Homo sapiens: one gene and its partner. The protein of the gene in region 2 interacts with the protein of the main gene of each other region in a biochemical or structural test. Each region holds a gene or a part of one and is shown on either strand. Other genes may lie near its edges. The genes, in order: NOD2 and MAP3K7.

Region 1 (3,822 bases), on a different chromosome or scaffold from region 2:
CTTCAAAGCAAGAGTCTGGTGTCCCTGCAGCCGAGCTTGTCAACCTCCTCTAGAGAGAAAGTGTTCCCTCGGAGCCTAAAGCAGATCAAGTGAACAGAGGTTTGAGTGAGGACAAAATTAGAGCAGGGCTTTCAAACAAAAGCCTCCACTTTTTAAACCCATGCCTGGGATGGGCTGACTCTCTGGCCCAGCTGCAGTGTTTCTTGCAGGGAAGTCAGGGCTGTTTTTACCCTTGGCCAACCAGGGCAGCTCAGGAAGCATTCTGAACAAGGCTCCATGACTCTGCAGAGAGAGTCCACAACACTGCACCCAGCCAGCCACAGACTCCCCAAGGCCAGTGATTCTTTTTAAGGCAATAAGAGAATCTGTCAAGAATGCAATGAGCAAACCCTGGTGCCCTCCCAAGTTCCATCAACAGGCAGCAAATAACATCAGACCCCTTAAAATATCAACCTCATGTTGGCTGGTGCCCAGGACCCAGAATGTGATGTTTCTTAGGACTGTGCAATGGTTTCAAAAACAAAGAAACAGAAAACCTACACTTTGCCCAGAACCTGATGACGTCATAGGCCACAGAGCTATCACAATCATACAGAAGGAAAAATCTCTCCATCACAGCATAGATTTTTGAAGTCACTTTTAAATTTTTTATTTTTTTAAGAGATGGGATCTAATTCTGTCGCCTGTGCAGTGATGCAATCATGGCCCACTGCAGCCTTGAACTCCTGGGTTCAAGGGATCCTTCCATCCCAGCCTCCCAAGTGGCTAGGAACTACACCGCACCCAGCTGAATTTTTTATTTTTTGAGAGACAAGGTCTGGTGTTGAACCTCTGGCCTAAAGTGATCCTCCTGCCTCAGCCTCCCAAAGTGCTAGGATTACAGGTGTGAGCTGCCACGCCCAGCAAAGCTTTTGTTTTTAACTTCATCATTTGATATCTGCATTCGCTGCAGCCTTGATGTGCTTTTTGAGAGAAGACAAGGCCTGCATATTTAAAGCAAGGGTCACAGGCTTATGGGAATGAGTTGCCAAAGGGTCCTGGTCTAAGACAATAGGCTTGGTGGATCTGCAGTCAGCCAGAGTGGGTTTGCCCATCTGAGAAGACTCAGCCCTTCTTGTACTCTGGTTAACTACTGGAATCATGAATGGGCATCCAGAGTTCCCAGCTCTTTTGAGAAAACCCTGAGATATAGATTTTCTATAGGAAATTTCCTGGCTTTTAAATATTAGTCTCTAGCCCAGTGCCTGGAACATATATAGTAGCATTCACTTACAGCACATTAGGCCAGGGAAAGCCTTTACTTATTGTCTGAGAAATAGATCCCTGGAAACAAGAAGGACAAATCTTTGAAGCTGTGGCTCAGCAGAGAGAAAGTCTACAACACTGGACCCAGCTGCCCAGACTCCCAAGGCTAGTCATTCTTTTTAAGGCAATGAAAGAATCTGTCAAGAATGCAATTCTTGCTTTTTTCAATACATGAAAGTCTATGGCTTTAATTATAGAGAATTGGAAACACTGTGCAACCTGCTCCTAACCTGTGTAATCTCCATTCAGAACCGCAGAAGGTCTGATCCAATATCCTTGACCTGTGAAGGCAGATGCAATTTCTAGGAGGGCGGGAGCTGACTTTTCTTTTCATTCTTCAACCACATCCCCATTCCTACACTATCTCATAGAGCAGAGAAGTTGCTGAATAAATAGTCAAGGTTTAAAAATGAAATCATTGCTCCCTACTTAAAGAGGTAAAGACTTCTTTCTTAGACAGAGAATCAGATCCTTCACATGCAGAATCATTCTCACTGAATGTCAGAATCAGAAGGGATCCTCAAAATTCTGCCATTCCTCTCTCCCGTCACCCCATTTTACAGATAGAAAAACTGAGGTTCGGAGAGCTAAAACAGGCCTGCCCAGGGGCCTTACCAGACTTCCAGGATGGTGTCATTCCTTTCAAGGGCCTGCAGGAGGGCTTCTGCCCCTAGGTAGGTGATGCAGTTATTGGACAACCTGGAAAAGAAGATACAATGGTGAGCTTCAAGGATTCTTGGTTTTCCTCTTGAAACTGTCCAGTTAAAGAGACTGCAGGAGTTAGCCAGTCTACTGAAGCCCACCTGTCCCTTAGACACATCCTGCTCATGTCTGAGATTCCCAATGAGCTCATCAACAAAGGCTCAGTACCATCAGTGAAATGTAACCGTCTCTCTTCCATTCACTAGATGAGTTTATCAAATTAAGTAGCCACTCCCTTAGGATAGTGGTTAAGTACCTGCATTTTAGTGCTAGACATCCTGGGTTTAAATCCCACCTACACCACTTCTTTTTTGATCTCGAGCAAATTAGTCCCAATCTCCTCATTGGTAAAATGGGCCTAAAAGAGTACCCGTGCCATCGAGCATAAGAATCTAAATTGTGATGGGTGTAAGCAGGCTCCTATTCACATCCACCATCCATCTCCTTGTGGCATGGGTCCTGGGCCATTAAGTCAGCCACCAGTCCCCCATTACCTCCCCACACTCTGCTTGCTGGGAAGACCCACCACTCTCTGCATGCCTAAAACACTTGCACAGTACTTGATATGGTTTGGCTGTGTCCCCACCCAAATCTCTTGAATTCCCACGTGTTGTGGGAGCGACCCAGTGGAAGGTAATTGAATCCCATCCTGTTCTCATTACAGTAAATAAGTTTCATGATATCTGATGGTTTTAAAAAGGGGAGTTTCCCTGAACAAGCCCTCTTCTCCTGTCTGCTGCCATGTGAGATGTGCCTTTCACCTTCAGCCATGATTGTGAGACCTCCCCAGCCACGTGGAACTGTAAGTTCAATAAAACTCTTTCTTTCATAAAGTGCCCAGTCTTGGGTATATCTTTATCATCAGCATGAAAACGGACTAATACAGTACTTAATTGATAGAAAATAACCAATGAGCAGTAATATTTCTATTTTCAGGGGGGTCTTTGAGGGCACAGAGACAGAGATTAGAGAACATATGAGGTAGCTGACAACAGGGAGGGGAGACAGGATAGGGCCAGGGACAGCAACAGAGGAGTCATGTGTTTCCCAGGTTGCTCTTTTGGTTACAGCTTTGCCTTCCAATAATGTCCACTCCAGGTCCTCCCCCTTTCCCACAATTTCAGGAATGTCTTACAAGTTGACCCTAAGGCAATGCCAATTGTAATTGCCAGTATTTATTGAACTTCTATTAGATTGGTGCAAAAGTAATTGCAGTTTTTGCATTGTTGAAATTTGCCATTTGATATTGGAATACATTCTTAAATAAATGTGGTTATGCTATACATCATTTTAATGCACAATTCTCACTTTATGATTTTTTGCTAATGACTTAATACTTTCTGTTTATTTTATATTTATTTTAGACTATGAAAATGATGTTAGACAAAAAGCAAATTCAAGCAATTTTCTTATTTGAATTCAAAATGGGTTGTAAAGCAGCGGAGACAACTCACAACATCAGCAATGCATTTGGCCCAGGAACTGCTAACTAACGTATAGTGCAGTGGTGGTTCAAGAAGTTTTGCGAAGGAGATAAGAGCCTTGAAGATGAGGAGTGTACTGGCAGGCCATCAGAAGCTGACAATGACCAATTGAGAGCAATCATCAAAGCTGATTTTCTTACAACTACTTGAGAACTCAACATCGACCATTCCATGGTCATTCAGCATTTGAAGCAAATTGGAAAGGTGAAAAACCTCGATAAGTGTGTGCCTCATGAGCTGAGTGAAAACCAAGAAAATCGTCATTTTGAAGTGTCATCTTCTCTTATTCTACACAACAACAGCGAACCATTTCTTGATCTGATTGTGACGT
Region 2 (3,822 bases):
ATTAGGCAGACATTTGTTTTTAGACTTGTGGAATAATGTAAAAAATGGCCATTAGTCACATGATTATAAACAAGGCATAGAAATGAAATAACTAAGAGTGGCGCTAAAATTAAGAAGGTAAGTAATTTTCCTTCATGAAAAGCTATTTTCCCAAGCAAATGTAAAGTAACTTTACTAATGAAGAGGATGCATTCTAACATCATATGTGGTTAAAAACAACATTACCAGAACTATAAAAGAAACAGGACAGATGCAAGGACATTGAGTCCATAAGTCAATATGACTTAAGATATGAGCATTCAAGTCAGAAGCATCTGGATTTGAATCCCAGCTCTACCACTTACTAATCTTGTGACCTTAAGCAAGTTATTTAACCTCTCTAGGCCTCAGTTTCCTAATCTGTAAAATGAGGCAACAGTACTCACCTTCTAAGGGTGGGTGAGAATATAAACAGGAAAAATATGTGAAGCATTATTATTCTTTGCTTCTTCTCCTTGATGAGGCCCTTGCTTCTTCAGGAGAAAAGGGCTATAACTCTCCAGTTATATTAACCATGTCAGAGATTTTATGTATGTATTTTTTTATTTTTTCCATGATCCAGCCTGATGCTTCTCCCTAAGAGAGAGCCAACTGTCTAGGTTGCGTACTGATGGCCTTTCCCTAATCAGCGGAGCCAGTGAACATCCTCAGCCGCATGTGTAGACCAGGACTACTCTCAATCCTGCTCTGCTGGACTCTGGGGCAGGGACAGGGCAGAGTCTGATAATAGCAAAGCAGTCTCTTAACAAAGAATTGTACATTTTAATGTTAGAGATAAATGATATTCTTTAGGGAAGGGGACAGGAGTAGTCTTCCAAGTAGAAAACACAAAAAGTACTTTTAAGAAAAATTTCTTTTTACGAACCATTATGAACAGCCCACATGATTCGGAAAGCTGGGCCACCAATCTCATCAAAGGGTTTCCGACGCGTTATCACTTCCCAAAGAATAATACCCCAGCTGAAGACGTCACATTTTTCACTGTAATTACTACCTAGAAAAAAAAAAGGTAGTATATAACCTAAAGACTATTTTTCCACATGACTTACAGAAACAATGGCTTAAATTTTGAGAATGGGTATCAGGGATAAAAATGAGGCTGTCACATGTAGAACTAAGAAACTACTCTTTCTGAAGTACTTTGTCTTTTCAACAAGTACATTTTTAAATGAATTAAGTATCAACAATACACTAAAAAACTACTTCAGAAACTCAGTTATTTTCTATCTTTTTTCATCAAGAGGCAGTTTTTTCATCAAGAGGCACAGGACTTGACTTTTATGTATTTAGACTGATACTTTCTCTGGGGCAGAGTATGAAACATCTGTACATTCCTTTATGTTGTTTATTATTATTTTATTCTGAGACAGGATCTCACACTCTCATCCAGGCTGGAGCTCAGTGTAGCCTCAAACTCTTGGGCTCAAGTGATCCTCCTGAGTAGCTGGGGCTACAGGCATGCGCTGGCACAACTGGTTAATTTTTTAAATTTTTTGTAGAGATGGGGTCTTGCCATGTTGCCCAGGCTGGTCTCAAACTCCTGGGCTCAACTGATCCTCCTGCTCTGGCCTCCCGAGGCGCTGGGATCACAGGCATGAGCCATTGTGCCTGGCCTCCTTTCTGTTACATTTTAATCTTAAATTTTCTTCCCACTCTGACAGACAGCACTACTCTGCTATCAAAGCAGAAGAACTTTCTAATTTAGTGTTACAGTTTTTTCCTCAATATATGGTGAAGGGAAATTCTTAATTTATAAACTTAAACATTACGTTGTAAGTAACGAAAATTATGGATAACCTGAGTTACACAGCAAAATTTACAAACTAAGTAGGTGGTTGAATCAGCCAGCACAATAAGCACCCGTCATAATCTCCCAAAAACAAACAAACACTCAACTCACTGTAAGAATGAACAATTATTATAGCTATAGCTTTACATGCTAAGCAGTACACTGTAATATAGCACTACAACCATGCTACAGTCTAATTTGGGCTACAGGTTGACTGACATCTTTCAGAAATGAAGAAACTTACACAGCCTAACAGTCTGCATTTTGTTGCTCTAGACAATTAAGGGTTGTCTAGAGCAATAAAATTAATCTTTTGTATAAACAAATCTTTTTGCTCTCCACATACAGTAACATTGGGTCATTTTAACTCACATAAAGGTATATTAAATAAGTAAATAATTTTAAAACAATGTCAAATGTATACATTCTGTATATGAAACAGGAGGCATTATTTAATCTTGTGTAATATAACACCTGATTATTCATTTATTACTAAATTGAATTTTAGGGCAAAAGAGCTCCACTCAGGTGACTAGTTGCATTGCAATTTCTCTTCCTCTGGGGTGGCTAAAAACAAACAGAAAACCCTTTAAAGTCATCAAAACTGAAAGAAATAAGCTATAACCAGAGTCTGATTAACTGAATGTATCTGAATTTTATGGGCATTTACACTTCCTAACATACAAATCACATACCTTCAGTTCAACTTCTTTCATTTAAAAGATAATTTGATGTTTTTATACAGAAACCTAGCATATAATTTACAGACAACTCTTTTAAAACTTCAGTGACATATGGAGGTATAAAAGAAGGTAAACATATAAGCTTGACATTTATTTGTAATTCTTAGTATCTTATTTCTGTCCAATTACTTGCATTCTTTTTTTTTTTTGAGATGGAGTCTTGCTCTGTCACCCAGGCTGGAGTGCAGTGGCACGATCTCGGCTCACTGCATGCTCCGCCTCCCGGGTTCACACCATTCTCCTGCCTCAGCCTCCCGAGTAGCTGGGACTACGGGCGCCCGCCACCACGCCCGGCGAATTTTTTGTAGTTTTAGTAGAGATGGGGTTTCACCGTGTTATACAGGATGGTCTCGATCTCCTGACCTCATGATCCGCCCACCTCAGCCTCCCAAAGTGCTGAGATTACAGGCCTGAGCCACCGCGCCCAGCTATTTGCATTCTTTTTAAGGCATCCTCATTTAAACTTTAGGGCTCTCAATTTTTAATTGCTAGGAAACCAATACAAAAGCACAGTTAATTCTCATTATTCCTGGTATTTATGTTCTATAAAGTTTCTGAGAACACTGAATTAGTGAACACTGAATCACTGCTCCTAAGGAAAATACAGGGGTAGGTTCCTGTGTGCCTCTGGTCACCATGTTTTTGTCAACTGATCAATATATAGCCTTGTTTCATGCGTATTTCTGCTTAAAGACACCTTATTCATATATACTGTTGATTTATTACCATTGAACTCATAGTCAACATTTCTGTAACTCATGCCTGAATGAAGATAATTTAACATATGTATATTGTCTGTTAAGATACATCATAGCCTTCTTGTACTTAGGCAGTACTATGCTTGAGGGCCATTTTAAGTAGCAAAATTACCAACAAAAATCACAAAAATGAAAAAGGGCTCTGAACAGCACAAAAAAGGACACCTGCTTACAGCATGAGAGCTGAAACAAGACGGAAAAACGTTGTCTTGTTCAACCTCAGCTGGAAGCATGCGTTAGATGACTCAAAATTTGCACTGCTCAGCGCATGCACACTGTCTGCGAGTACATGAAAGCACTGTCTGCAAATAACCATGAAAGCACCATGAGTATTAATTTTGGGGTTACAAATAAATGTTAGCAAATAGGCAATTTTGCAATTAAGAAATTGGTGAACAATGAGGATCAACTGTACATATGCTTAGAAGCATAGAAGATTTAAATCTTACTATAAAATTTAGGATATAACACTATATTTAATATCCCCTTAGAT

The links.
Region 1: the proteins of MAP3K7 (region 2) and NOD2 form a complex in vitro, tested with the Homo sapiens proteins (2 studies listed by BioGRID).

The regions. Positions count from the first base shown.
Region 1 is NC_000016.10:50,728,000-50,731,821, reverse strand, and holds part of NOD2 (nucleotide-binding oligomerization domain-containing protein 2), read right to left. Parts: exon of another isoform or gene 3,372-3,822; intron 2,810-3,371; exon of another isoform or gene 2,672-2,809; intron 2,005-2,671; coding exon 1,921-2,004; exon of another isoform or gene 1,869-1,920; intron 76-1,868; coding exon 3-75; 3' UTR 1-2. UniProt on the Homo sapiens protein: Pattern recognition receptor (PRR) that detects bacterial peptidoglycan fragments and other danger signals and plays an important role in gastrointestinal immunity.
Region 2 is NC_000006.12:90,552,554-90,556,375, forward strand, and holds part of MAP3K7 (mitogen-activated protein kinase kinase kinase 7), read right to left. Parts: intron 1,034-3,822; coding exon 905-1,033; intron 1-904. UniProt on the Homo sapiens protein: Serine/threonine kinase which acts as an essential component of the MAP kinase signal transduction pathway. Plays an important role in the cascades of cellular responses evoked by changes in the environment.